Homo sapiens: one gene and its partners. The protein of the gene in region 2 purifies or fractionates together with the protein of the main gene of each other region. This does not show direct contact. Each region holds a gene or a part of one and is shown on either strand. Other genes may lie near its edges.

Region 1 (7,027 bases), on a different chromosome or scaffold from region 2:
GAGGGGGAGAGACTGGTGACCTACCTGTTGGTAGAACAGTCACAACACACAATTTATTATATTTGCCATCTTATAGGGGCACAGTTTGTGGTGCTCCAAAACAATGACAATAGTAACATCAAAGATCACAAATCAGCGTAATAAAATCCTAATGAACAAGTTGAAATATTGCAGGAATTACCAATCTGTGACAGCCATGAAGTGAACACATGCTGTTGCAGAAATGGTACAGGTAGACTTGTTCAGTACAGAGTTGCCACACACCTTATATTTCTAAAAAAAAAAAAAAAAAAAAAAAAAAAGCAGTATCTTCAAATTGCAATAAATCAAAGCACAATAAAATACTGTTTGTACAAAATATGTTTTAAAGGTTTGGTATATAAAGTTTTTCAGAAACATGTATACTTTTATTTTTTACGTGGTTGGAGGCAGGAGGGTGTGGTAAGAATAATGCTTTAACTGTTAACTTGTTCATAGGATTGTCTTATTTAAATTCTACCAGTGAAGTTCAGGGGCTGTGGTGTGTTTGTTTTTTTCTGGGTTTGGTTTTGTTTCCCCTCCCCACATTTCCATCCAAATCTTAGGCAGTTATTGTGTCTGTACAAAATACTGGTATTATTTATAACTGTTCTTTGGTCTTCACCTCTGTAGGCAGTAACTTTGCAGACCTCGCTACTTAAATTAGAGCTTCCTGACTATGTTCGTTTGGCAATGTTGGATTTTGTATCTTCTTTAGGAAAACTTTTTATACCTGAAGCTATCCAGGTAATATTGCTTAACTCTGTTCTTGTATTATTAAAACAAAATCTCTATAAGAGTTAGTGATTAAGGGATTTTTAGGCTTTTTCTGAAATTTTGCAATTACTGACAAAGTTGGAAAAAAAAAACTATGTTCCAGACAGATTATAAAATCTATTTATAACTTATAATACAACTCATTTTAAGTTCTTTTCTTTTAGAAAAATATATGTTGATACACAAATAATTAGTTGGCTGTAGTCTACCATATTAGATTCTTATTCCAGTTGGGTTCTAATACATAGTTCCTGTGTATTTGTCTTATAGGGAACAGCATGTAATTAGGAAATTTGGTAATTTATTAAAGTTATTCTCTTCGTTTTTTATCCATGAAAGAGAACCTGTTTTTAAAGACGATATTTTTGAAAGTGTTGCAAAATATGTATAGCTGACAAATAGATTATTTATAAAATTATACTGCACTGGCCTGGCAATACACATCTACTGAATTTTAAAACCTCAGTAAATGTATATTACCAGGCCAGTACATAATTTAAAGAACTTACAGCAAAGAGATCTTCATAAATTGAGAATTACGCCTTCCTTATTACTATAGTCAAAATTTAGTAATTCTAGTAATTGACACTTCAATCTCCAAGGGAGAGACTATAAAGAGTTCACTAATGAGAACTTTCTTACATAATTAAAGCAAACACATTATAGACAGTATCTCAGAACATGTAGATTAAACTCTTTGAAACCAAAAATTTAATTTCTAAGGGGCTCTTTTATTTGTTCATAAGTTAACAGTATCCCATCTGTCTCCATCATGTTAAGGTTTTATTTCATGAGATAAGCATAGAATGTTGACAGCTTTTCAGCTCTCTTGACAAAAATATCCAAAGACACTTGGCATCTGAGCTGTCTTCTTTTTACCATGAAATAAATCTATTCCAAAATGCTGCTTCATTTGTGAACCACTATGGACTATGCACGGGCCTAGAAATTATGAAACAAATGTTTTATAAGCAGAAATCGCAGTGCCTTCTGTATTCCCAGGAGTGAGGTCAAGACCTGAAGAAATTTTTGAGATTCATCAGAACATAGGAGGCATTTAAAGCCATGAAATGAGATTGACTGATTTATCCATTCGGGAAAGATTACGTTTTTGCTGTACCCAGTGCTGTTTTAATCATTGGCAATGCAGTAATGAACCAAACTAATAAATCCCCACTGTTAGCCTGTTTAGAGGCAATAAACAATAACAACATGATGATATGTGCAGTATATTAAATGGTGGTGAGTGCTATGGAGAAAAATAAAGCAGGGAAGGAAGATAGGGAATATGAATGTGGGGGTCCAATTTGAAATGGGATATATAGTTAGTGAAGTCCTCACCAAGGTGACATGCAAGTAAAAACCTGAAATGCAAAGCACTGGAGATGGGAGCATGCCTCATATTCAGGGAAGCAAGTATAGCTAACACAAAGGTAGCAGGACTTTGCAGGTCATTTGAGGACTTTGGCTTTCACTAACAAGGGAAATAGGGAGCTACTGGAAGGATTTGAGTAAAAGAGTGACATTACCTAATATGTTTTAGTGTGTGTCCCCTGGGACAGGATTATGTTAACTTGACAACACTGGGCTTATTGAATGTATGGCTATTTTATGATTATCTATTATGGTTTCTTTTCTCTATTATAATAAGGCTTGGTTCTTTTAGGACAGAATTCTGCCCAACCTGTCCTGTATGTTTGCCTTACTGCTAGCTGACAGGAGTTGGCTGCTAGAACAACATACCTTGGAGGCGTTTACTCAGTTCGCTGAGGTAATTATAAAACTGATTTATCACAGTGACTTTCAAACCATTTTAATATTTCAAATATTCCAGAACAATCCCAAAACATTTATTGAACTGCTTCTGTATTGCAATCGGAAAATTGTCTGAAGGGTACATTACTCGTTATCTCTTTTACAGCTTCTCAAAATGAGGCTTAGATAAATGAAGTGAATTTCGTAAGGTCCTCTGAATAAACAAGGACCAGAACAGGCATACACAGCAGGCCTACTGATACAGACAGACACAGACACAGTCTTCCAGCAGATAGTATTTTTGGGTCAAATGATAATACATTTCATTTTGTGCTATCAGTCATAAGGGTTAGGCTGATGAACCTAAACCTGTAAGATGGGTTGCTCCTTTACTCTTACTGCATTTGCTGTATAGTCATGCCTATGATCATAAGGGAGTCCAGAAGCATTAGTATGACCCAGCAGAAGTAATTAAAGCTTACAACACTTGTACAGAAGTTAATTTTGTATTATCCTTAGGGACCCTGAAGGAATCATGAGTTTATCACCTTTGAGGATCCTCTGGGACTCTTACTTAAAATGAATTTTTGGTTAAGGTAGCTCATAAAACTCATCTATTTGTCTTTGCAAGTTGTTGAAATGTTAAAATTGGTCTTGTTCATCAATTTTTTAATAGGGAACAAATCATGAAGAGATAGTTCCACAGTGTCTCAGTTCTGAAGAAACTAAGAACAAAGTTGTATCCTTTCTGGAGAAGGTACTTTCTTTACATGGCTCATGTTTTATTCTTTGTCCTATTTTTTTTTTTCCGAAATTATGTAACTGTAACCAACCTGAGTGTCTTCTTAGCTTAAACTTTTCACAGTGCTGAGCACAGTGCTGACGACTTTTACTAAGCAATTGAGGCCACAGAAGTAAAACACTTGGGGCCAGGCGCGGCGGCTCATGCCTGTAATCCCAGCACTTTGGGAGGCCAAGGTGGGTGGATCATGAGGTCAGGAGTTCAAGACCAGCCTGGCCAACATGGGGAAACCCTGTTTCTACTAAAAATACAAAAATTAGCCGGGCATGGTGGTACGCGCCTGCAGTCCCAGCTACTCGGGAGGCTGAGGCAGGAGAATTGCTTGAACTGGGGAGGTAGAGATTGCAGTAAGCCAAGATCATGCCACTGCACTCCAGCCTGAGCGACAGAGTGAGACTGTCTCAAAAAAGGACACTTGTAGTTCCTCTGCCTGTAGTTTGGGGTGTAATAGCACTGATTATCCAGGCAGTGAGATGACTAATGAGGATCCCTAAGCTATTAATAATCATAATTAAATACACTTGATCACATAATTAGGTAGGCCTGAGAGGATGTTTACTACCATATTTTGGGTATAATTTAGGCATGGCTTTTTTTTTTTTTTTTTTTTTTTTTTATTTGGGCAGCCTCCCAAGCCAGGGTAAGCTCAGGGCCCTTTTTTTTTTTTTTTTTTTTTTTTTTTTGGCATGGCTTTTTTATTCTCTTTGCAGCCAAGACCTGTTTTTACAATTAAAACCAAAATTTTGAATCACAAGGTTCCTATGTCTATGCATACTTGGGAACTTAGTGTGAGGAAATAATAGTTAATTGAAATACTAGTGGAACTGTTAAACCACAAATTTAGACTACCAGGAGAAACTGAATTATTTGATATATTACATGTAATGATGCACGTTATATATTTTACATATATTACATATATATTTTTTTAGGTGAAATGGGCCCACTTGACTCACTGAACTTTATTTTTTAGACAGAGTCTCGCTCTGTCGCCCAGATTGGAGTGTGGTGGTGTGATCATAGCTCGCTATAACCTCAAACTCCTGGGCTCAAGCATTCCTCCCACCAAAGTCCTGGGATTAGAGGCATGAGCCACCACACTTGGCCTACTTATATTACATCTAAGCTGGATTTTAAGTACATGTGTATACACTGCTGTTGCCAGTTTCTTAGCTTATACAGTAAAGGTTAGCAGACTATCATTTTTTCCTGCAAAGACAACTCTATAACTAACTATTTTGTAAGGAAGAACACAGTAGAGTGATTTAATCCAGATTATACTAAGAGTATTTATAGATCAGTCCATGTGACTTCCAGAATTTGCCTAGTATGGTTGAACACTCAGCACTTAAATTATGTGGCCATTTCATATCTAGTAGAGTGCTAACATGTTGCTATTTGCTTGGTTTTTCATGGTCCCTGGCAGACTGGGTTTGTAGATGAAACTGAAGCTGCCAAAGTGGAACGTGTGAAACAGGAAAAAGGTATTTTCTGGGAACCCTTTGCTAATGTGACTGTAGAAGAAGCAAAGAGGTCATCTTTACAGGTATGGGCTGATTTCAATAGGGGCCAAACTTTAACAAGGCAAATTCTGCCCTTTTTACTTACTGACGAAACAAACCAGTGTGGTTTCCAGCCTTATGCTGAATTTCAAATCAAATAGATCTAGACATGTAAAATTCTGTTTTATGGTAGTTGCTTTTAAAATTAAGAAGTGGGACTACACCATATCAAATATATTCTTTCAGTATGTTTGAATTATTGGTAGTAACCTTTAAGGGAAGTTACATATTGTACCAGTGATGCTATAAATGCAGTCTTTACTGAACCACAGAAGAAAATGAAAGAAACTTACTCCTAAATGTTTAGTTTGATTCCTTGCCTTATTAATCAAATGAGTCTCCTAATAATTTTTGGCAGTAACTGAAGATCACATCTACTTATTAAAAGGCAGAATTTGACACCAATAAGGATATTCAAAATATTGTTTTGAGCACTATTAGTATAGTAATTAGTATAGTAGTAATTCATGAAGAACAACATTCTGATAAGTTTTAGTCAAACTCTCATAAAAAGAAAATACATTTATGAACTTGTTTATAAGACATGTAAGCTTGGACTATGCAGCACTTCTCATTGGGAGCCCTTTGGGACAGGATACTTGTTGTATACCACATACAAACTAAGACACTGGTAGTAGCACTCTGAATTGCTATGATAAACCAAAATGCCTTTACATATTTTTCTAGATGACTGTGTAGGGGTTTTGGGGTGCATCCTCCTACCCTTGTGATCCAATGACTAGAATAAAATTTGCATGTAAGCTTTACTCCAGTCCAAAAGGAAGGTTCTTTATATTTAGAATGGATATTGTGATATTACTTATGTTTTTTTTCCAGCCTTATGCAAAAAGAGCTCGTCAGGAGTTCCCCTGGGAAGAAGAGTACAGGTCAGCGCTGCATACAATAGCAGGGGCTTTGGAAGCAACTGAGTCACTACTCCAAAAGGGTCCTGCTCCAGCCTGGCTTTCAATGGAAATGGAGGCGCTCCAAGAAAGGATGGATAAGCTAAAACGTTACATACATACTCTAGGGTGAAACTTATCACTAGGCAGAACTGGGTTTGATGCTTTGTCAACTGAAAATACTTATGTCTGTACATTTTCTAACAGATATAAAACAAATTTTGTAAAGTTGAATCTAGTGAAAATAATCTTTATTTGACATTTAGAGAACAGGATTGTGGGGAATATTCTTATTAAGAACTTTGGTACAATGTACTACATGTGGAACAGTCAGGAACTGCCTAGGTCCACAAAGAACCATTTACTCAGATAGTCTAACTGTAAACAAATAAATAAGCTGCCTAAGGAAACCTCAGCAATTTAAAATCATTTATATAATTTATAGCTAAAATTTTTTAAAGTTGTATTTCATAATAGAGCTTACTCTTATGTTAAAGAATGGCACAAAATTAAGCTAACCAGCTTGAATTACATTTTCTTTACTTCCAGAATTGTCCTGGAAAAAGCAGTAAATTCGACCTCTCCTCAGCTACTTGCTCTTCATAGAAACTGGCCTCAGTCAAATGCACAAAGGCTCTTCCTCCTGGAAACCAGTACTGTGAGCCTCACCACCCAGGGCTTTTAGCCAGCACTCACAGTCAGTCTCCTACTTCAGTTGGCACAGACTGGATAATGAGCTCCTGGGATGGGAAAAGCAGGCCACTTTGGGGTTTTCTTGTCCCAAAGCCTGCTTTTGAGGTATTGATTTTTTTTAAAAAAAGGGAATCCTTTTTCCTAAAGTTTAACTCACATCTATTGTCACCAGTTATTATCTTCCCAGTTCAGCTCCCCTTCTTCTTCCCAGCCTTCAGCCTCTCCCTGCAACAAAATAAAGCACACCAAGAACCCACTGAAACAAATCATATGCAAAAATCATACGCAAATTTGAAAAAGCAGGAATTTAAAATTTATCTTTTGATGCCAGAAACACTACCTCGTACTAAGTAAAATAACTTAGAGCTCTAACAGAAAGTTGAAAAGTAGGATTACAAAACCATGGCACTGGAAAATAGCTTTTCAAAAACCATAAAATCCAGTAAAAATCAGTGTGGATGACACCAAATCCTTATTTTAATCCCTTTTTTTTCTTTTTCAAATAAAAAGGTTACAAT
Region 2 (6,520 bases):
TGGAGCTGAAACGTCTCCACTGGAGTTTCACGGGGCAGGCAGTTGTCAGCCCCTGTGGCTGGCGGGGAGCGTGTACAATCAACCCTGTGCTTCGGCTTCAGTGATTAAACTGTTTTACCCACCGGGAAAGCCGAGGCCGTTCATGCTGAAGGGGATGTGAGGGAAGATTCCCCCAGCCCAGGAAGCCAAGGTGGTGCCTCTGCCAGCCCCAGAGAGTGGGTCCCCAAAAGATGCAGAGGCCAGAGATGGGGCATGGGCCCTGCCATTTCTAAAGGGGAAGTGAACAAGAAGAGGCGGCATTAACTGTCATTGTCACCCCCACTTCCCGCAACGCCCAGAGGTTGTCCACACACACACACACACACACACACACACACACACACTCCACCCTCACAGGGCACTGGCCCGTGGCCCTCTCTAGCAAAGACACACCCGGCTGCCCCTAGATCCACAGCCCCCCTGAGCCACGGCCCCCACGCATGCACGCACCAGGGAATAAGAGGCCGCAACATCACGTACCATGATCGAACTTCAATGTTGCCAGGGCATGCATCCCACAGTCCACCCCTTGCAGCCTGGGAGCCCTACTGAGGCCCAGAGAGGGGCCGGGACTTCCCCAGAATCACACAGAAGCGGGGTTGTGGGGAACCCACTCGCCCCCACACCAGGGTGCTCTCTGCTCCTACGGGGAGGTGGGGTGGTTGCCTCCTTGTCCAGGGTGACCATGGGAAGCCCATTTGGCGTCAGAAGCCCCGAGAGGCCACCGGGAAGACCATGGGGGCCTGTCCCGTTCCCTGCTCCCCATACAGGCGAGGCTGCGTGCACACAGCTTCCTGTACCCCAGGAGGGCCTGCCTGGCACGCACCCGGTGGCTGCACCATCCACACGCAAGACTGCAACTTCAGATGCTCCGCACGCTGGAGATGCTGGACAGGGGCTCCCGCATCCGAAAGCTGAGCGAGCGGGAGCCGCGAAAGCTGTCCCTTGGCCTCAGAGAGCTGTCGGTGGTGGAAGCTCCGGAGTGAGCCTCGACGGCCCGGGCCAGGCAGTCCCCGGGCCCTCGCATGCCCAGCCGGAGACACCCGCAGCAGAGGAAGCTGAGCACGGCTCTGCACACCTCCCTGCTGCGGAAGGAGTAGATGATGGGGTTGACCGCCGAGTTGAGGACGGCCAGGGCCAGGATCCAGTCCATGCCCCGCAGGTACTCCTGGGCCCAGAGGTTGGAGCCAAAGACGTCGGCCAGCAGCAGCCCGAAGAGTGGGCCCCAGCACACCAGGAAGGCCAGCAGGATCATCAGCACCGTCTTCAGCAGGCGGCGGGCCTTGCGGCGGGCCGCTGGGCGTGGGGCCTTCTGCCCGCTGGCCTGCACCAGGCGGAAGATGGCCCCATAGAGGCCCATGATGGTGGCCAGGACGCCGGCGAAGATCACCAGGCAGAAGAGGATGTAGCGCTTGGAGTAGAGGGGCAGAAGGCTGGAGCAGCGGTCAAAGGCGCACAGGCAGTTCCAGCCCAGCAAAGGCAGCATCCCCAGCAGCGCGGCCAGCAGCCAGCAGAGGCCGATGAAGCCGTAGACGCGGCTGGTCTTGGTGGCCCCGCTCTCGGCCACCGGCCGCACCATGGTGGCAAAGCGCTCCCCTGCAGTGAAGAGCAGGCTGAAGGTGGAGGCGGCCAGGGCGGTGAAGAGCAGGCCCTCCCGTAGGAACCACTGGGCGGGCGCCAGACGGAAGGTGCGGGCCCCCGACAGCAGCACGTTGGCCAGGTAGGCCGCGCCCGTGAGCAGGTCACTCAGCGTGATGTTCACCAGGCAATAGTAGACCCAGCGTCGCGACCGCATGTGGCTGGTGATGGCCGCCAGCACCAGCAAGTTCTCCAGCACCACCAGGCAGCTGGCGGCCACCGACAGCCCCCGCAGGGCCCCCAGGCCGCCATCCTCCGGCCCCCCGCGCCCGGCCAGCCGGCCCGAGTGGTTGTAGTGCAGAACAATGAGCCGGCTGTGCCCGCCGGCCGCCAGCTGTTGGCAGGACTCGGGGGCCACCGGGGTCCCCGTGGCGTTCATGGCCTCCCCCGGGGGCTGACTGAGGCCCGACGCAGGGTGGAGCCACCCGCCTTGCTGGTCTTGGTTTCCTGTTATTTGAAATTTCCTGTTATGTTCAAGGTGCCCTCCAGGGTGGAGGTAAGGCCGAGGACAGGGAGGGGCACCCCAACGGTCGGCCCCCACCCGGGCTCCTGGAGCCAACGCGCTGGGGCTGCCCTGGCTGTGAGGACCCCCACCCCTGCCCTGGCTGCCTTCTTCCTGTCCTCGAAAGCCGGAGACCCGCAGGGAGCCCCGGAGCCGTCAGTCACGGAGGGGAAATGAGTCCCCACTCGGGATGGGCCACCCCTTTCCAGCCGGACGACTCCTCCCCACCAGCCCTGATCACCCCCGAAGCACCCGTCGGCTCCACTGAGGTCTCCCCACATGCTCCACCGGCGCTCAGCACACAGCAGGTGCCTAATAAATGTCAAGTGCCTGCATGCCCTTGAGCACTGACTCATCCGACTTGATCCCCGAAACAGGGCCTGATGCGTTACAGAAGAGGAAACTGAGGCCCAGAGAGCCCGGTGCGTTGCAGAAGGGGAAACTGAGGCCCAGAGAGCCCGATGCGTTGCAGAAGGGGAAACTGAGGCCCAGAGAGCCCGATGCGTTGCAGAAGGGGAAACTGAGGCCCAGAGAGCCCGAGGCGTTGCAGAAGGGGAAACTGAGGCCCAGAGAGCCCGAGGCGTTGCAGAAGGGGAAACTGAGGCCCAGAGAGCCCGATGCGTTGCAGAAGGGGAAACTGAGGCCCAGAGAGCCCGATGCGTTGCAGAAGGGGAAACTGAGGCCCAGAGAGCCCGATGCGTTGCAGAAGGGGAAACTGAGGCCCAGAGAGCCCGAGGCGTTGCAGAAGGGGAAACTGAGGCCCAGAGAGCCCGAGGCGTTGCAGAAGGGGAAACTGAGGCCCAGAGAGCCCGATGCGTTGCAGAAGGGGAAACTGAGGCCCAGAGAGCCCGAGGCGTTGCAGAAGGGGAAACTGAGGCCCAGAGAGCCCGATGCGTTGCAGAAGGGGAAACTGAGGCCCAGAGAGCCCGATGCGTTGCAGAAGGGGAAACTGAGGCCCAGAGAGCCCGATGCGTTGCAGAAGGGGAAACTGAGGCCCAGAGAGCCTGATGCGTTACAGAAGGGAAAACTGAGGCCCACAAAGGCGGCCTGAGGCCAACTTTCTGCCCATGGGAGGACACACAGGTCCAGGGAGAGAGACCCCCAGGGACAAGCTGGTAGGGTCTCGGGGCCAGGCGCCCATTTTGGGATTCATGGTTGCCTCTCCTGCCCCTGAGCTCACCCTGCTGGGAGCAGAGCTGCTGGCCCCCTGGGGCAGCCCCCCACTGGGATTGAGGTGCATAGGAAAAGTAGGGACTTGCTCACCCCATCCCCATGGCCCTGCTGACAACGGCTCACGGTGACTCAGCCTGAGGTGAGGTGGCTGTGGGTCTAAGTGGGAGACACACCCTGCTCTGGCGTCTGAGGAGGGAGGCAGGCTCTGCCCTGGCGTCTGAGGGGGAAGCTTGGACCTGCCTGGGGTCTGAGGGGGGAGGGTTGGCCTTGCCCTAGGTTCTGAGAGGGGAGGCATGACCTTACCCTGGGGTCTGAGCGGAGAGGCTCAGCCTTGTCCTGGGGTCTGAGGAGGGATGCGAGGCCCTGTGCTGTGGTCTGAGAGGGGAGACACACCCTGCCCTGGGTCTGAGGAGGGAGGTATGCCCTGCCCTGAGGTTTGAGCGGGGAGGCTTGAACCTGCCTGGGGTCTAGGGGTGAGGGTTGGCCTTGCCTTGGGGTCTGAGTGGGGAGGCATGGCCCTGTCCTGAGTCTGAGGGGGGAGGCGAGGCCCTGCCTTGGGGTCTGAGGGGAGAGGTGAGGCCCTGTCCTGGGGTCCAAGGGAGGAGGCGAGGCCCTACCCTGAGGTCTGAGTGGGGATGCTCAGCCTTGCCCTGGGGTCTGAGGAGGGAGGCTCAGCCTTGCCCTGGGGTCTGGGGCATGTAGGGGCTTGGACATCATCTGTCACGGATGGAGTGTGAGGTCTCTGCTCTCCAGCTCCCCCAGTGTCTGTGACCCCCCACTCGTCCCCATCCAGAAGGCCTTGGGGTGTGGGGTGATTTGGGAAATAATGCAGGCCCCAGAAGTGTGAGTAGGACCCAGGATAAGTCCCTGCTGGGAGCCTCCTCCCGCCTGCAATCACCCCCAGGCCAGGCCCACTTACCACCAAGGAGGGTCCTGAGGGGCCCCACCTGCCCTCTGTCCCCCCAGGAGCCTGTGGTCTTCAGCCTTCCTGAGACAATGGTGTCCTTGGCCTCAGGGTGGGGGCAGCTACACTAATTCTACCAGTAAGGTGTCCTGGAAGGGTCACAAGTGTACTGCGAGGACACAGGTGTCCCATGAGGGGCACAGATGTCCCGTGAGGGCTCAGGTGTTGAAGGCCGAAAGAATGAGGGTTGTGATCAACTCAGTATACCACTGGAGGCTACGTGAGTAAACAGCAAACTGTTCTCATGAAAGCAGGCTGTTGGCAAACTGACAAACTGCGTCTGCCGCCCAGAAGGAATGCTGAGGGCAGTCACGCCCCAGGCACAAGTGTTTCTTGCAAGTAGGCAAATCTGAAACCTGTTAGCAATAACGTGAACGTGTGAACAATCAAGCAGCTGGCCAATCGTTTCCTCCCCCTGCTTTCTACCCAATAAGTACGAAGGGCTGTAGAAGCTTGGGGGGCTGCCTTTGCTCACTAGAAGCAGGGAGCTCTCTTTTTCTTCCCCTGGTCCCTTCCTTTAAAACAGTTTCTTCTGTCTTAAGTTTTCATTTCTACATTCGTCCCTTCGTTCAGTCTTGTAATGATGGTCTCAAGTAGTAACAATAGTAACTGTCGTAGTGACAGTCTCAGGTAGTAATCATGGCAACCACACACAGGCGTCCCATGAAGGGTACAGGCATCCCATGAGGGCACAGGTGTCCCATGAGAATGCAGGCGTCCCATGAGGGGCACAGGCATCCCATGAGAACACAGGCATCCCATGAGGGGCACAGGCGTCCCATGAGGGTACAGGCATCCCATGAGGGCACAGGTGTCCCATGAGAATGCAGGCGTCCCATGAGGGCACAGGCATCCCATGAGGGGCACAGGCATCCCATGAGAGCACAGATGTCCCATGAGGGGTACAGGCGTCCCATGAGGGTACAGGCATCCCATGAGAACACAGGCGTCCCATGAGGGGTACAGGCATCCCATGAGGGCACAGGCATCCCATGAGAACACAGGTGTCCCATGAGAACACAGGTGTCCCATGAGGGCACAGGCGTCCCATGAGAATGCAGGCGTCCCATGAGAACGCAGGCGTCCCATGAGGGCACAGGCGTCCCATGAGGGCACAGGTGTCCCATGAGGGGCACAGGCGTCCCATGAGAACACAGGCGTCCCATGAGGGGCACAGGCGTCCCATGAGAACACAGGCGTCCCATGAGGGCACAGGCGTCCCGTGAGAACACAGGTGTCCCATGAGGGGCACAGGCGTCCCATGAGAACACAGGCGTCCCATGAGGGCACAGGCGTCCCATGAGAACACAGGTGTCCCATGAGGGGCACAGGCGTCCCATGAGAACACAGGCGTCCCATGAGGGCACAGGCGTCCCATGAGAACACAGGTGTCCCATGAGGGGCACAGGCGTCCCATGAGAACACAGGCGTCCCATGAGGGCACAGGCGTCCCATGAGGGGCACAGGCGTCCCATGAGAACACAGGCGTCCCATGAGGGCACAGGCGTCCCATGAGGGCACAGGTGTCCCATGAGGGGCACAGGCGTCCCATGAGAACACAGGCGTCCCATGAGGGGCACAGGCGTCCCATGAGAACACAGGCGTCCCATGAGGGCACAGGCGTCCCATGAGAACACAGGCGTCCCATGAGGGGCACAGGCGTCCCATGAGAACACAGGCGTCCCATGAGAACACAGGCGTCCCATGAGGGCACAGGCGTCCCATGAGGGCACAGGCGTCCCATGAGAACACAGGCGTCCCATGAGGGCACAGGCGTCCCATGAGGGCACAGGCGTCCCATGAGAACACAGGCGTCCCATGAGGGCACAGGCGTCCCATGAGGGCACAGGCGTCCCATGAGGGCACAGGCGTCCCATGAGAACACAGGCGTCCCATGAGGGGCACAGGCGTCCCATGAGAACACAGGCGTCCCATGAGGGCACAGGCGTCCCATGAGGGGCACAGGCGTCCCATGAGAACACAGGCGTCCCATGAGGGCACAGGCGTCCCATGAGGGCACAGGCGTCCCATGAGAACACAGGCGTCCCATGAGGGCACAGGCGTCCCATGAGAACACAGGCGTCCCATGAGGGCACAGGTGTCCCATGAGAACACAGGCGTCCCATGAGAACACAGGTGTCCCATGAGGGCACAGGTGTCCCATGAGAATTCAGGCGTCCCATGCGGGGCACGGGCATCCCATG
Region 3 (7,027 bases), on a different chromosome or scaffold from region 2:
TAAAAATACAGCTATCTATATTCATTTATATTAGGTGTTATAAGTAATCTAGAAATGATTTAAAGTATAAAGAATGATGTGCATAGGTTATATGCAAATACTATGCAATTTTATATCAGGGACTTGAACATCTGTGGATTTTGGTATCCATGGGGCATCCTGGAACCAATCCTCTGTGAATACTGAGGTATGACTGTATATATAAATTAAATGTTGTAGTTTTATTTTTTTAAGCAGATAGCTGTTTAGCTCTCATCATGATTATTTCTAAGTTCATAATATCCATTGAAATGATCTCATATATAAACCTTTTTTCAATCATTAAATACATTGTCTGCAATTTTTTTGATGTTTGTAAATGCTATAATAAACACCCAAGCTTAAAAAAACAGATGGCCTATAGTTATCTTCACCATCTTAAAAATCCTAATAGTAGTTTCATGTAATGATGCCTAACAAGATTAGTTCTGCTTTATAAAACTTTTTATTACATTTGCAAATTTGATACATTAGAATAACTTACCAGTTTTATATTAGGAAGTAAACTATACTGATCAAATGAAAACCTTATAATTTCCAATGCTGTTGAAGAATCTGTTGATAAAATACAATAGGACACTTCTTAGAAAAATCTTTTTTTTAGAGAGAATTTGAAATGACTTTTTATTTCTGTTTTTAGAAATTCATTTTTTCCTCTACGAGCCAGGCACAGTGGCTCATGCCTGTAATCCTAGCACTTTGGGAGGCCAAGGCAGGCGGATCACTTGAGGCCAGCAGTTCGACACCAGCCTGGCCAACATGGCGAAACCCCATCTCTACTACTACTAAAAATACAGTGATTAGCTGGGTGTGGTGGCACACGCCTGTAGTATCACAGTTACTTGGGAGGCTGAGGCACAAGACTGTGCTTGAGCCCTGGAGATGGAGGTTGCAGTGAGGCGAGTTCGCACCACTGCACTCCAGCCTGGGTGACAGAGCAAGACTCTGTCTCAAAAAAAAAAAAAATTCATTTTTTGCTCAAAAGGGACATAAAGACATACTAATAATACAAGCTCCATGAACACAGGGAATTTTTCACTGTGTTGTTTATGCTGCACCTCTAGTTTCTAAAATAGTACTTGGCACATGGTAAAGGTGTTTATAACAGTATTATATTTGATAAATTTTTAAAAATTGGACATATTCTAAATGTTCATTAATAAGGTGTTGATTAAAAGTATAGAATAATCATACAATGGAATACTATTTTGTTGAAAAAAATAGGGTTTTTTCCATGTAAACTGACATTGACACAATATTTTGTTCCATGAAGAAAACAAGTAGAACAGTAGTATGTGTAATATGATACCACATTTATTTTTACTATTTTAATTTAAAAATACTCTACCCACACATAGCAGTTCTTAAGCTTTTTGGTTCCCTATAATTACTGAGGACTCTGGCTTTTGTTTGTGGGAGATATACATTTATATGTTTTTGTTTCTATTAGAAAGATATATTTACTTTCTAATGGTAAATATGTATTACAAATACATGTTTATATTAAAAATTAAAACTGAAAAAAATTTATGTATTTAGAATAAGAAAAATGAATCTATTATATGTTAACGTAATGTATTTTTATGAAAAATAACTTTTCCAGAATGAAAACATTCAATGAGAACAGTGGCATTGTTATATATTTTATAAATCTCTTAAATGTGTAGCTTAATAAAAGGTGACTGGATTCTTATCTGCTTCTTTATTCAATCTGTCATGATGTTTTAGTTGAAGTATGTCATGAAAATCCAGCCTCACATTGATATGTAGTCAAAACATTGGAAAGTATTTTAGTTGCCTTTTCAGGTAATTGTAGATAGATATTTTCTTTGATACCATACCAAACCTCTATAAGTAGTAGTTTCTTAAATGTTAGTTGCAATGTGGAATGTCAGACTGTGCCAGTGAACTTTTTGTACTCTTGTCTCATAAAATCCTTTTATTTTGTACTTTGAATGGATCTTTTACCTATGCGTGATTGGTTTTTATAAAAATCAGAATTTTTCAAATGCATTGGTCATTTTCAGATGCATTGGTCACATTTCATTATTCCATATCAAAAAACTGCATTTGTTAATGTCACACAAATCTCATTGGAAAGGTCTTCAAGTATTGTGAAGTTGTCCAGGTCACAAAGATGAATGCTAGTTTTTCAAAATTCTACTTTTTACTTGAATGCTCAAATCTTATAATTGGTAACCCGGTCAGTTTTTCTTTAGTTGATAGGCTTACTGCTTTTATGTGTTGAGAATACTTGTCTGTGAAACATCCAAATCTGGAAGAGTTTGCCATTTATTTGTTCATCTATAAATAATATTGCATTTTTAAAAGTGGTAAATTCACTCTTATGATGGCACTGATAAACTAATGATAAAAAAAGAACTTCCAAGCCAGGCGCAGTGGCTCATGACTGTAATCCCAGCACTTTGGGAGTCCAAGGCTGGCGGATCACTTGAGGTCAGGAGTTTAAGTCCAGCCTGGCCAGCATGGTGAAACCTCGTCTCTCTAAAAGTACGAAAAAAGAAAATTAGCTGGGCCTGGTAGCTGATGCTTGTAATCCCAACTACTTGGGAGGCTGAGGCAGGAGAATTGCTTGAACCCAGGAGGCGGGGGCTGCAGTGAGCCAAAATTGTCCCACTGCACTCCAGCCTGAGTGAGAGAGACTCAGTTCCCAAATATGTAAAATATAAAAAAGCAAAATATTAACACTGATTATATTGGAGTAGTGGGAAAATGCTAACTTTTTTTTTCTTTTTTCTCATTCTTTTTAAAATTTTCTGTAATGAATATTTTATGTTATGTAGTTAAAATAAAAATGTTATATAGAGTGTGTTATAAAGGATACTTTACAGAGAGTCGAATGTAGATTAAGAATAGTTATTTTTCTCTATTTTTCTTGTTAGGATTTAGGTCCTGAATATGAAGGTATATTTAACACTTCATTGCAGTGGATCTTAGAAAATGGAAAAGATGTTGGAATAAGGTAAAGGATCTGATTTCCACTTTGACCATTCTGTACTGGGAGAAATGGTTTTTGACTTTAAATTCTACCTTACTTATTTTTAAATAGGTGTGTTGGTTTTGGCCCTGAGGAAGAATTGACAAATATAACTGATGTGCAGTTTTTACAGTCCACAAGACCACTGATGTCTTTTTGGTGTCGTTTTCGACGTGCTTTTGTTACTGTAACTCACAGATTATTGTTGTTATGCTTAGGTAAGTTGTAAAGATAAGAAATGAGATAAATTGCAGCCTGAATTTTTGTGTGTATTTCACTAAATGCCAGAGTTGAGAATTCATTTTTGTGATGGTTGCCACATAAGTCACAGCTAGATGTCTTCACTAAATATAATAAAAATAATGTCAGAATCATTCTAAAGGCTTAGAAAGCAGTAATATAAGGAGAGGTAGAAATAAAACTTTGTTATAAGACTGTCACAGAAAAACAAGTGTGGTCAGTATATACATAGAAATCTACTTTAGAAAGTAGAATTGAAAAATACAAAAATTGAGCTTATTTTTAAATAATAAAGTGTTATAAAGTTTATTAAAATTTAGTTTTTAAAATGTAATTTACCTACATTTAAAATTTTTATCATTTTTTAATTGATAATAGGGATTTAGGTGAGAGTTGTTTTTTCATTCTTTCTTTCTTCTTTAAAAATAATTCATTTTGGCCAGCTTTAGTGGCTCACACCTGTAATCCCAGCACTTTGGGAGGCAGGAGGATTGCTTGCACTCAGGAGTTTAAGACCAGCCTGGGAAGCATAGACCCTACCTCTACAAAAAAATTTTTAAAATTAGACAGGCATAGTGGCACGTGCCTGTAGTCCCAGCTACTTGGGAAGCTGAGGTAGGAGGATTTCTTGAGCCCAGGAGTTGGAGGCTGCAGTTAGCCATGATTGCACTACTGCCCTCCAGCCTGGATGACAGAGTAAGACCCTATCTCAAAAACAACAACAACAAAAGAAAAATTCATTTTACTTAAAGTAAGATTTAGTATGTTTAATCTCATGAGGTTCACTTTTCTAGTCGTTTTATGCTTCAAAGGAAAAAAGTTTGTGAAACATAGTTATATATATATATTTTTAAATAGTAGTTAGAATTTAAATGTTCACTTATCAGTGTAATGGAAGAAATGCTTTTTTCTAGAAAGTGAATCTTTGGAAAATGTTCAGTATTAAATTTTTTTATGTAGTTTTAATTATATAGCTAATTCAGCCATCTGTCTTGAAGGTTCATTCCGTTGTGGCAGTTAAAATAATCACTGAAATATTATTGAATGATATTGACCACAATTTTTAAAATACAAAGTATATTAATATTACAGGTGTAGTGATGGTTTGTGTCGTTCTGCGTTACATGAAATATCGATGGACAAAAGAAGAGGAGGAAACAAGGCAGATGTATGATATGGTGGTAAAGATTATAGGTATGATATTTGTAAGAATCTCAACTATTTCTAGAAGAGTCATTGCATGATTAAACTACATTATGTCAAGTGATTGATTCATTTGTAAATTTTATTTATTTTTAGATGTTTTACGAAGTCATAATGAAGCCTGCCAGGAAAACAAAGATTTACAACCTTACATGCCTATTCCACATGTACGCGATTCCTTAATACAGCCTCATGACAGGTGTGTTCAAAGCATTATGAGTTCAAGTAAATCAGAAAATTTAAGTGCTTTCTGCAGTATTGAAAATTATATTGAGAGCTGTGACCCTTCTCAACTAGACTTGCTTACTGCACAGGTTTTTTTTGGTTTTGCTTTGTTTTTGTACTTTATACTCTCTTTCTAAATTCTCTTCCATTCTCCTGATTTTGAGTGACACCTGGATTTCTAAGTCATTCTCATTCCTAGGCATTCTTGATTCTTTGTTGTTAGTCTCCATCTTATTTCCTTTAATTTCATCTTGATAAAGAAATAGATGACAGCCAGTGGCTGGTGTTTTACTAATGTTTTTTAAGTACTAACTTTATTATTAATGAAGCTTTTAAAGTAAAAACTAAAATGCAACTTTTTGAAAATAAAAGATAATTCCATATCCTGAAGCAGCATCTTGACCCTAGCAACACATAAAGCCAGTGGAGCTTTTGGGGAAAAAAAATACAGATGTTTGTGCTCTAGCTCTGGAAATTGAAACTCAGAAAATCTGAGATGAGATATAGGCATCTAAATCTTCTTTGAACAAACTCCATGAGTAGTGGTAAGAACAGCTAGAGTTAACTATTACCTCAGATACTAATATTTCAAAAAGATGACAAGCCAAGATGATAGTAAATTTGCCATTTTGTTCACATGATAGGAAAAAAATGAAGAAAGTCTGGGATAGAGCTGTTGACTTCCTTGCTGCTAATGAGTCTAGAGTTCGCACGGAAACACGAAGAATAGGTGGTGCAGATTTTCTGGTTTGGCGGTGGATCCAGCCTTCTGCATCCTGTGACAAAATATTAGTTATACCTTCTAAAGTATGGCAAGGTCAAGGTATGTATTTTTAAACATCAAAAAAGTAATTTTCTTCTAATTTTTCAAAATGACAAATATGTGTTAAGTGAAACAGTACAATTCAAAGATGTATGAAGGCAAAACTCTCTCGTTCTGTTTCGTAGAAGGAATCAGTGTTAGCTTCTTATGTATCCTTCCACACTTTTATCTTTGCTAATGCAAACATAAATGGTTTATCTTTAATAAAGATGAATATTCCTTGAATCTTGCCTTTTTCACTTAATGAAGCAACTTAGTATTATATATATTAACTGCATTCTTTTCATCTAATTTCTTTATGTAAATAAGACACATAATTTATGTTATATATACAATAAAATATATATAAACTATATATGTATATAAGTGAAGTCATAACTTTTTAACTGCTCTTTTTTTTCCAGTTTTTGCCTGCCTCCTCTTACTAAGACCTTTCTATTTATATATTCCTCCTGCCAAGTAACTTTTGTGGGTATCTTTCCATATTTTTCTTAATGCCTACATAGTTTCAAAAACATGTATAAATAAGAAAGGGGTAAGTTTATAGGGGGTTTTGAAGATTGGCTGTCATATGTACCCAAACCTTTACTACACAGAAAAGCAGAAAACAATGCATCAGAAAATTATGACTTTTTCCCTATAAAAGTATGTCAGTATTTGCTAAACATAGTATTTGTGGAAAAGGTAAGTTGTTTTGGACATGCAATACAAAGTCCAGTCACTCCTTTTTTATTCTCCAATTAATTTTCACTTTGAAAAAGCTTGAATAAGAGGCTTCTTTAAACATGGCATAAAAGTGATGCTCTGTCAGGGTAAACAGCTAAAGCAGGCAGGGCTTAATACCTGGGTGATGGGTTTGAGTTGATAGGTGCAGCAAACCACTATGACACACGTTTACCTATGTAACAAATCTGCATGTCCTGTACATGTATCCCAGAACTTAAATTAAAAAAATGATGCTTTCATGTTGCCAATGATTATACTATTTCCTCTAAATGATGCATGCATTTCAGTTTCCCTATAAACTGAAAATAGAGAATTCCTTATTTTACTTGACCTCTTAACAGTGTTTGACAGTTCAGCCCTCCTTGAAACTTTCTTCACTGGGATTTGGGGATGCCACCTTCTTCTGTTTTTTTTCTCCTACCTCAGACTTTTTCTTCAGTCCTTTTCTAGATTATCCTCTTTTTCTTCACCTCTAGGTGTTAGAGTTTCTCAAGGCCATCTTTTTTTTCCCACTCTGCCATTTCTCCCTAGATAATCGTCTTGCTGTGACTTAATTTACCATATTGGGATAACTCCCAAATTTTTTATTTTGAATGAAGTCTGGTTTTCAGATTTTTGTACCCAACTATATATTTCTGTACTAGGAGGTGGGCACCACAGATTCAACATGTACACCAGCCTGATCCTCTTCAGTGTTCCTAGTCTAGTTAATGATACCTTTCCTGAGTTGATTCTGCCATAAACTTAGGGATAATTCTTAATCTCTCCTTTAT
Region 4 (7,027 bases), on a different chromosome or scaffold from region 2:
CTGGCGCTTGGCTCTGCACTGGGGCCTTCCACTGCAAGGCCTCTCCCCTGAGTCACACCAGGGCAGGCTGTCCTGGGGATGGCAGAGAAGGGCCAGGTGAGAAGAACACCTGGGTGAGGGTGTTGTCGGGACCCAGAGAGAAGGAAGCACAGTTCCCAGGTCTTCGCCCCAAGACAGCTGGGGCCAGCGGAGGCTGCAGGAGGCGGCTGGGAGGGTGTGCAGGGTGACAGCTGGCATGCGTGTCTCTACGCCAGGTTCTACTTCCAGTGTGAAGGACATGAGCCTACCCTCTTGCTCATCAAGACCACGCAGAAGGAGGTGAGCAGGGGCCCTGGAGCCAGGGCTGGCTCTGATGGGCTCCAGGGCTGGCTCTGATGGGCTCCAGGGCTGGCTCTGATGGGCTTCAGGGCCTAGGCCTCCTGGGCCAGATCCAGAGTCAGAGCGTGGGTATGGCCAGCACATGGGGCTCATCCCACACTCAGGGCCACAAGGGGAAATGAGACTATCCCCAACACAGCCCCCGCCCACCCTCATTGCCAGCCCCAAGCCAGGGGCAGGGTGCACACACCTGCAACACTGCCTTTCCCACACCACTCCTGCCCTGGGGTGGGGGTGGGAGACGGCAATGCCTGCACCCCCACCTGTGACCTGGGACAGGCCCGTCAGTAGTCTGGAGCACAGGGACGCTCCTGGGGGCCTGCGGGCACAGCCTCACCCAGACCTTTCCCCCAGGTGTGTGGTGCTTACCTGTCCACAGACTGGAGTGAGAGAAATAAGTTTGGAGGCAAACTGGGCTTCTTTGGGACCGGAGAATGCTTTGTGTTTAGGGTGAGTGGGGCCAAGTGTCCCCAAACCCCCACGCAGACCCTGTAGCTGCATCCCTCCAGGAGCACCCGCCTGCCCTGGGGACACTGTTGGGTGTCGCCATGGCAGTCACCCAGCAGCGTCATCGCCCTGTGTGCTTCCGGGTTTGATCATTCAGCCGTGCGCTGCTCCGGGGCAGGGGGCTTCATCTGCTCGAGCCACCAGCTCCCCAGCCCCTGGCTCGGGCTGCACCCACCTTGGGCTCTGGGTGCAGATTCACGGGATGAAACGGGTTGTGGCTCTGGGGCAGAGGGGCCTGCGAACGCCCGCGCCAGCTCCTCACACTCCCCTTCCACCCCAGCTGCAGCCTGAGGTGCAGCGCTACGAGTGGGTGGTGATCAAGCACCCCGAGCTGACCAAGCCCCCACCCTTGATGGCTGCCGAGCCCACCGCCCCACTCAGCCACTCCGCCTCCTCAGACCCCGCTGACCGCCTCTCGCCCTTCCTGGCCGCTCGCCACTTCAACCTGCCCTCCAAGACCGAGTCCATGTTCATGGCGGGGGGCAGCGACTGCCTCATCGTCGGTGAGCGCCAGCAGACGGGGCTCTGGGATGAGGGTGTGGGGTCCGGGCAGCTGAAGCTGCTGCACCCAGCCCTCCCTGACCGGGGTGGCAGAGAAGAGGCCCTGGGTGTCAGGGTGGACCAGGCATGATGGGTGGGAGGGGGCTGGAAGGGAGAGACCAGCCTGGACAGCTGGTCCTGGGGGCTATGGAGGGTCAACGGTCTGTGCGGTTTCAGAGAGGCCCGTGCAGGGCAGGACAGCTGGGACAGCAGGTGAGGTGCCTGGGTCAGTGCTGATAGGGCAGTCAGGCCGCCACTGACCTGAGCATCCTGCAGGGGGAGGAGGCGGCCAGGCGCTCTACATCGATGGGGACCTGAACCGGGGCCGCACAAGCCACTGCGACACCTTCAACAACCAGCCCCTCTGCTCCGAGAACTTCCTCATTGCTGCCGTGGAGGCCTGGGGCTTCCAGGACCCTGACACCCAGTGACGGCCTGTGCCACGGTGACTGAGCCGTGGTGGGGCGGTGGGCCGAGGCTGGGCTGCCGCCTCGGGCAGCAGAGAGCAGATGAAACCCCCATGTGGTAGGCAGGGTTGGGGGACGGCAGGACCCCATGGCCAAGCCTGGCGTTGCCTGGACCTGCTGCTGCCTCTACCTGGGGTTTGGGCTGGGCTTCCCCAGTCCACCTGCATCTGGGTCAGAGCTGGAGGGCCTGCTGTGCCCCCAGCCCCACCCAGAGCTGGCATAGGAAGTACCTTCCTCCTCCGTGGAGGCTTCCATAGCCCAAGGCCTTGGGAGTGTCTGGGTCTTGCTGCCCCTGAGCCTCTCTAGGCAGCCTGAGCCCCTGGGGTGGGAGTACAACGGCAGTGGGAACGTGCAGCTAAGGGTGGGCCTGTGGTGCCCCCTGCTGGTGCCGCATAGCATCGCGCCCTCCTGAGCAGGGCCCTGCAGCCTGGCTGGCTGGCGACTGAATCCCAGCGTAGATCCCGAGAACAGACTGGCACCCTTGGGCCTGCCCCCTGGCGGACCCCACCCCCTGTCCTGGGCGTTTGCCCCAGTTCCCTCCCCAGGCCTCCTGGGCCACCTCTCACATTAACCCTTCTTGGCTGCCTCTGAGGCTCCCCTGGGCTGCGTTTGGGAGCTGCTGGGTGGGAGGAGGAGGGTGGGATTTGTGCTGGGCTCCACCCCCAGGGAGGGTGGGAGCTGGAGGGGGATGTCACATGTCCTTGTGTTTCTGCAGAGCCTGAAGCTTTTGCTGGGCCTCCCTGCGTGTTCCCATCTGAAGAGGTAGCCCCGGGAGAGGCCCTCAGGGACCGACCCAGACCAGCAAGCTCCATTTCCAGGGGTCTGCCCAGAGAAGCCTGGACCCAGGGGGCTTCTCAGCTCCCCTCCCTTCCAGCCCAGGCCTCCTTGAGCTCCTGTAGCCTCTGCAGCTGCCCATTTCACCTCTTTGTCATTGCAATGACCTGGGGCCCAGGGTCACGCCCAAGCCCCTCTTTGTGGCATGCTCATCTCAGTGCAGCCCCAACTGCTTCTCTGCACCAGGCCCCGTGCCCTCCCCTGGCCCTGGCCACACAGCACCTCCTTGGCCACCTTGCATGGATGCATGTCCTCCCTCTGTCCCTCTTGTGGTGCTGTGGCTGGCCACGTGTCAGGGTTTTCTGTGAGCCTCTCACCTTACAGCCTTTGGGCCCCTGGGCCCCTGCCCTGCCTGAGCCCTGCGCTGGCCAGACGCAGGTAGGTGCCAGGGGAGGCCTTGCCTCTGGGCACTATAGGGGGCAGCCCCCTGCCTTGTGACCTCCCTCCATGCCCCATGACCTCCTTCAACTCGTCTTGAGGGTCTGGTCACCACGGAGGGGAGAAGGGAGACACAGAGGCCCAAGTGGCTGTTCTGGGACCATGGAAGCCTGGGTCACAGAGGCAGGTACCAGCAGTCCTGCCCCCACCCCCGTCCCTGCTGGCCTCCAGCCAGTGCCACTTGGAGTCCCCTGCACCGTGCCACTTTCCATCCCCACACCATTGCCTGCTCCTCCCATGGGGCTTTAGCCTCCCCTGACCATCTGCTCATGTAGCCTCTGACTGGGCGCACAGTGGTGCAGGAGGAAGGACCGGGAACCCTGTGTGGCTTTGGGCAAGCTGACAAACCCGTCTGGAACTCAGTTTCCCCAGCTGTGAAATGGGGCCAGTCCCCATGCCCTGCTGTCCTCCTCACAGGACTGTTGAGAGGCTCGCAGGGGGATGGGGTGAATCCCTCTCACGGGGAGAGGTATGGGAGGGAAGTCGCCACTCATCTCAGCCCACCGCAGCCCTCCAGGCCCCCGCCTGAGCCCCTGAGGCCCTCATCTGTACCGCCAGCTTTGGTGTTCATTAAACATGGTCTTGCTGCATCAACTCCAGGGCTCCAAGCTGAGTCTGATCTCTTCAGCCAGAGGGGCCTCCGGGGGCTTCCTGGGCCTACAGCCAAGCAGGTGTGGGAGGCTGCCCGCTGTAGTGCTCACCCACATTCTATGACTGGAATGCTGCAAGCCTCTTCCAGAGGGAGCCCTCCAGGAGCAGGGAAGTCATATCCGTGGACCATTTGTAGGTTTCCCTCTGCAAACTTCCTGAACTGGGTGGTGATTTTTCTGGCGAGTTAAGTCCAGCAGGTTCTGCGTGGCTGCCCCCAGGGGGCCCCACCCGGGCCTTCCAGTGATCTGGACCAGGAAGACGGATTGCTGCTGGGTCATGATTTCCACATCATGAGCGAAGTTCTTTGTTTTTTGTGTGCATGCAAAATATTGTTTCTTTAAATTTAATATCTTTTCCTAACTTTTCTACTAACCTAGAAGGTATGTGTGATTATTATCTTTTTTATTCTTATCACTGTACTTGTTAGTATCTGATATTAGGTATTCCCAAATAGAACATAATTTATTTTGTTAATGTTCTCTATTTCTTCTTGATTATTTATTAGCTTTGGATGTTAAAAATTAGCCAAAAGTGGCTGCTCTGCCTATGAAGTAGCCATTCTTTGTTTAAAAAAAAAAAAAGCCAACATTTGTTGAAACTGCATAATAAATTATCATTTGTTTTTAGAAACATTCAAAGAATTATTTTTTGATTTTTTTTTTTTTTGGGACAGAGTCACCCAGGCTGGAGTGCAGTGGCATGATCTTGGCTCACTGCAACCTCCGCCTCCTGGGTTCAAGCGATTCTCCTGCCTCAGCCTCCTGAGTAGCTGGGATTACAGGCATACGCCACCACGCCCAGCTAAATTTTTTTTGTATTTTTAGTAGAGGCAGGGTTTCACTGTGTTGGTCAGGCTGGTCTTGAACTCCTGACCTCGTGATCCACCCCCCCCTCAGCCTCCCAAAGTGCTGGGATTACAGGCGTGAGCCACCGCGCCTAGCCTATTTTTTAATTTTTTTGAATAGACCACTTTGTGCTGAATAAATGTTTAACATTTATTTTTAAAACAACAATTGCACCTAATTTAAAATAGTTTATTAAATGAATTCATTAAAGCAGATTATATGCCTTTGGGGCTTCAGAAAATCAGTTTAAGCAAAAGAACTTATGAGAGTAAGTCATTTGTACTTGAATTTTTTCAGAGTTTTAATGAACTAAAGTATTTTAATTTTTCTATTTTTGTAAGCCGCATACTTCATTTTTTGAGTTTTTCAGTGGAATTTGTTTTAAAACGTTTTGAAGATTTCAGAGGCCTTCATATTTCTCTTATCCACTTTCTGAACCCATAAAGCCTTTGCAGTCTCCTTGAGTAGTTTATATTTAGTAATTTAGTTGTGTACCTTTTTATTTTGAAGTAATTTTTGATTTGCAGAAGAGTTGCAGAGACGGTACAGGGTTTCCATGTACCCTCACCTTCCCCCAAGTCAATATCAAAACAAAGAAATAAGCATTGTTGCATTGCTGTTAACTAAACCACAGGCCTATTGAGATTGTCCCTTTTTTTTTTTTTTTTTTTTTTGAGACAGAGTCTCGCTCTGTCGCCCAGGCTGGAGTGCAGTGGCGCGATCTCGGCTCACCGCAAGCCCCGCCTCCCGGATTCACGCCATTCTCCTGCCTCAGCCTCCTGAGTAGCTGGGACTACAGGCACCTGCTACCACACCCGGCTAATTTTTTTATATTTTTAGTAGAGATGGGGTTTCACCGTGTTAGCCAGGATGGTCTTGATCTCCTGACCTCGTGATCTGCCCTCCTCGGCCTCCCAAAGTGCTGGGATTACAGGCGTGAGCAACCGCGCCCAGCCGAGATTGCCCCGTTTTTTTCCCACTGTCCAGGAATCGATTTAATTTTTACAGTTGTTTACTTTCTCACATTTTTACTAAGTCCAGAATATCATCAAACTCACAAAACCACTGGTCAAAAAAACCCAAATGGCCACTAATTAGGCAATACAGCACCTGCCTCAAATTTGGGTTCATATAGATTTTTTTCCTCCCTTTTTGTGGAGAACATAGTCTTGCTGTGTTGCCCAGGCTAGTCTTGAACTCCTGGACTCAAGCAATCCTCCCGCCTCTGCCTCCCTAAATTCTGGGATTACAGGCGTGAGCTGCTGTGCCCAGCTCATCCAGATTCTTGCTGGTTCTCTTTCTCAGCCTAAATGTCTTGTTTGCGTGGAGAAATTATCAAATGAAGCAGGAGTGCCAAACAAGCCTCATAGGCTCTTCACCCTACAACATCTATGTTAGGTAGAAAAGTATGTGGATTTTTAAAAATCATCTGGTATAAAGAGTTTTTAAGAACTATCTTCATCATCTTAGTATCAGATTGTGCTTGAGAAGTTAGGTACAATGTAATGTGATTCATTGCTAAAAACAAAATGCCTCCCACAATTGCAGACTCACTCATTTTACCAAACTATGGAATTTGTCAACACCTTTTCTTGGGACCAAGGAAGCAAAGTCAGTGGATACCGTGTCCTGTAGACATGTCACTTGTGATAAGGCACGGACAACATGAACTGGCAAAAACATTGGCATTTGGTCAAATGCTTATGAGCTAAGGATAGAAGGGAAAAAATAGTTGTGTGAATGATTTTACCTCTTAGTTCTTACGAAGGATGGTTATCGGGCTGGAAAAATGTTTATTGGACTGATGCTTTGGAGCCTCTCAATGAATGTAATAAAAAAAATGTGTAGTGAGCACAAATGTATGGATTTGCAGCACAATCCAACTTTGAAAATGTGAAAATAAGTGAGTTAGTGATATGTTTGGTTGGTGTTAATTTGAGTCCTAAATAAAATCGAGAACTGGTAAAAGAAGGTCACTGTGAAATAACTTGCTATGAGAAGGCTTAGAGGGATGGGAAGTCCTGGACGCCTCTTCTCCAGGGTGTTGGAGGAGAGAGGGAGGCGCTAGGTTGACAAGACCGCATCTGCGCATTGTGGTCACCAGCGAGTCTCTCCACTGAGGCGACAGGTACATGTCTGTCGCATTTGCAGCCGTGGCCGGTGAGAACGGCAGCATTCCCTGATCCGTCTTGTTTTCTTTTGTTCCTAGTGCCTGCTGTGTGGACAGCTACACTCAGCAAAGTCTTAGGGAGACTTAGAGGAGTCACCATGAAGAATCAGTGTCAGACGTTTCATCAGGAATCCCTGTCAAGGCCGGGTGTGGTGGCTCACACCCGTAATCCCAAGACTTTAGGAGGCTGAGGTGGG

Evidence for each region.
Region 1: the proteins of S1PR4 (region 2) and FIRRM purify together in Homo sapiens (co-immunoprecipitation; 2 studies listed by BioGRID and IntAct, with this or other methods). This does not show direct contact.
Region 3: the proteins of S1PR4 (region 2) and LEMD3 purify together in Homo sapiens (co-immunoprecipitation; 2 studies listed by BioGRID and IntAct, with this or other methods). This does not show direct contact.
Region 4: the proteins of S1PR4 (region 2) and TBC1D24 purify together in Homo sapiens (affinity purification with mass spectrometry; 2 studies listed by BioGRID and IntAct, with this or other methods). This does not show direct contact.

The regions. Positions count from the first base shown.
Region 1 is NC_000001.11:169,847,039-169,854,065, forward strand, and holds part of FIRRM (FIGNL1-interacting regulator of recombination and mitosis), read left to right. Parts: intron 1-651; coding exon 652-765; intron 766-2,461; coding exon 2,462-2,566; intron 2,567-2,592; exon of another isoform or gene 2,593-3,226; coding exon 3,227-3,307; exon of another isoform or gene 3,308-3,399; coding exon of another isoform or gene 3,400-3,468; exon of another isoform or gene 3,469-4,778; coding exon 4,779-4,898; coding exon of another isoform or gene 4,899-5,015; exon of another isoform or gene 5,016-5,751; coding exon 5,752-5,949; 3' UTR 5,950-6,674; coding exon of another isoform or gene 6,675-6,734; 3' UTR 6,735-7,027. Other genes in the region: SCYL3 (protein-associating with the carboxyl-terminal domain of ezrin), read right to left, coding at 6,675-6,734. UniProt on the Homo sapiens protein: Regulates PLK1 kinase activity at kinetochores and promotes faithful chromosome segregation in prometaphase by bridging kinase and phosphatase activities.
Region 2 is NC_000019.10:3,174,329-3,180,848, reverse strand, and holds S1PR4 (sphingosine 1-phosphate receptor 4 precursor), read right to left. Parts: upstream 2,081-6,520; 5' UTR 2,057-2,080; coding exon 902-2,056; 3' UTR 517-901; downstream 1-516. UniProt on the Homo sapiens protein: Receptor for the lysosphingolipid sphingosine 1-phosphate (S1P). S1P is a bioactive lysophospholipid that elicits diverse physiological effect on most types of cells and tissues. May be involved in cell migration processes that are specific for lymphocytes.
Region 3 is NC_000012.12:65,235,560-65,242,586, forward strand, and holds part of LEMD3 (inner nuclear membrane protein Man1), read left to right. Parts: intron 1-2,942; coding exon 2,943-3,022; intron 3,023-3,109; coding exon 3,110-3,255; intron 3,256-4,369; coding exon 4,370-4,471; intron 4,472-4,576; coding exon 4,577-4,679; intron 4,680-5,349; coding exon 5,350-5,528; intron 5,529-7,027.
Region 4 is NC_000016.10:2,499,103-2,506,129, forward strand, and holds the end of TBC1D24 (TBC1 domain family member 24), read left to right. Parts: intron 1-254; coding exon 255-318; intron 319-732; coding exon 733-828; intron 829-1,165; coding exon 1,166-1,388; intron 1,389-1,701; coding exon 1,702-1,856; 3' UTR 1,857-6,628; downstream 6,629-7,027. UniProt on the Homo sapiens protein: May act as a GTPase-activating protein for Rab family protein(s). Involved in neuronal projections development, probably through a negative modulation of ARF6 function. Involved in the regulation of synaptic vesicle trafficking.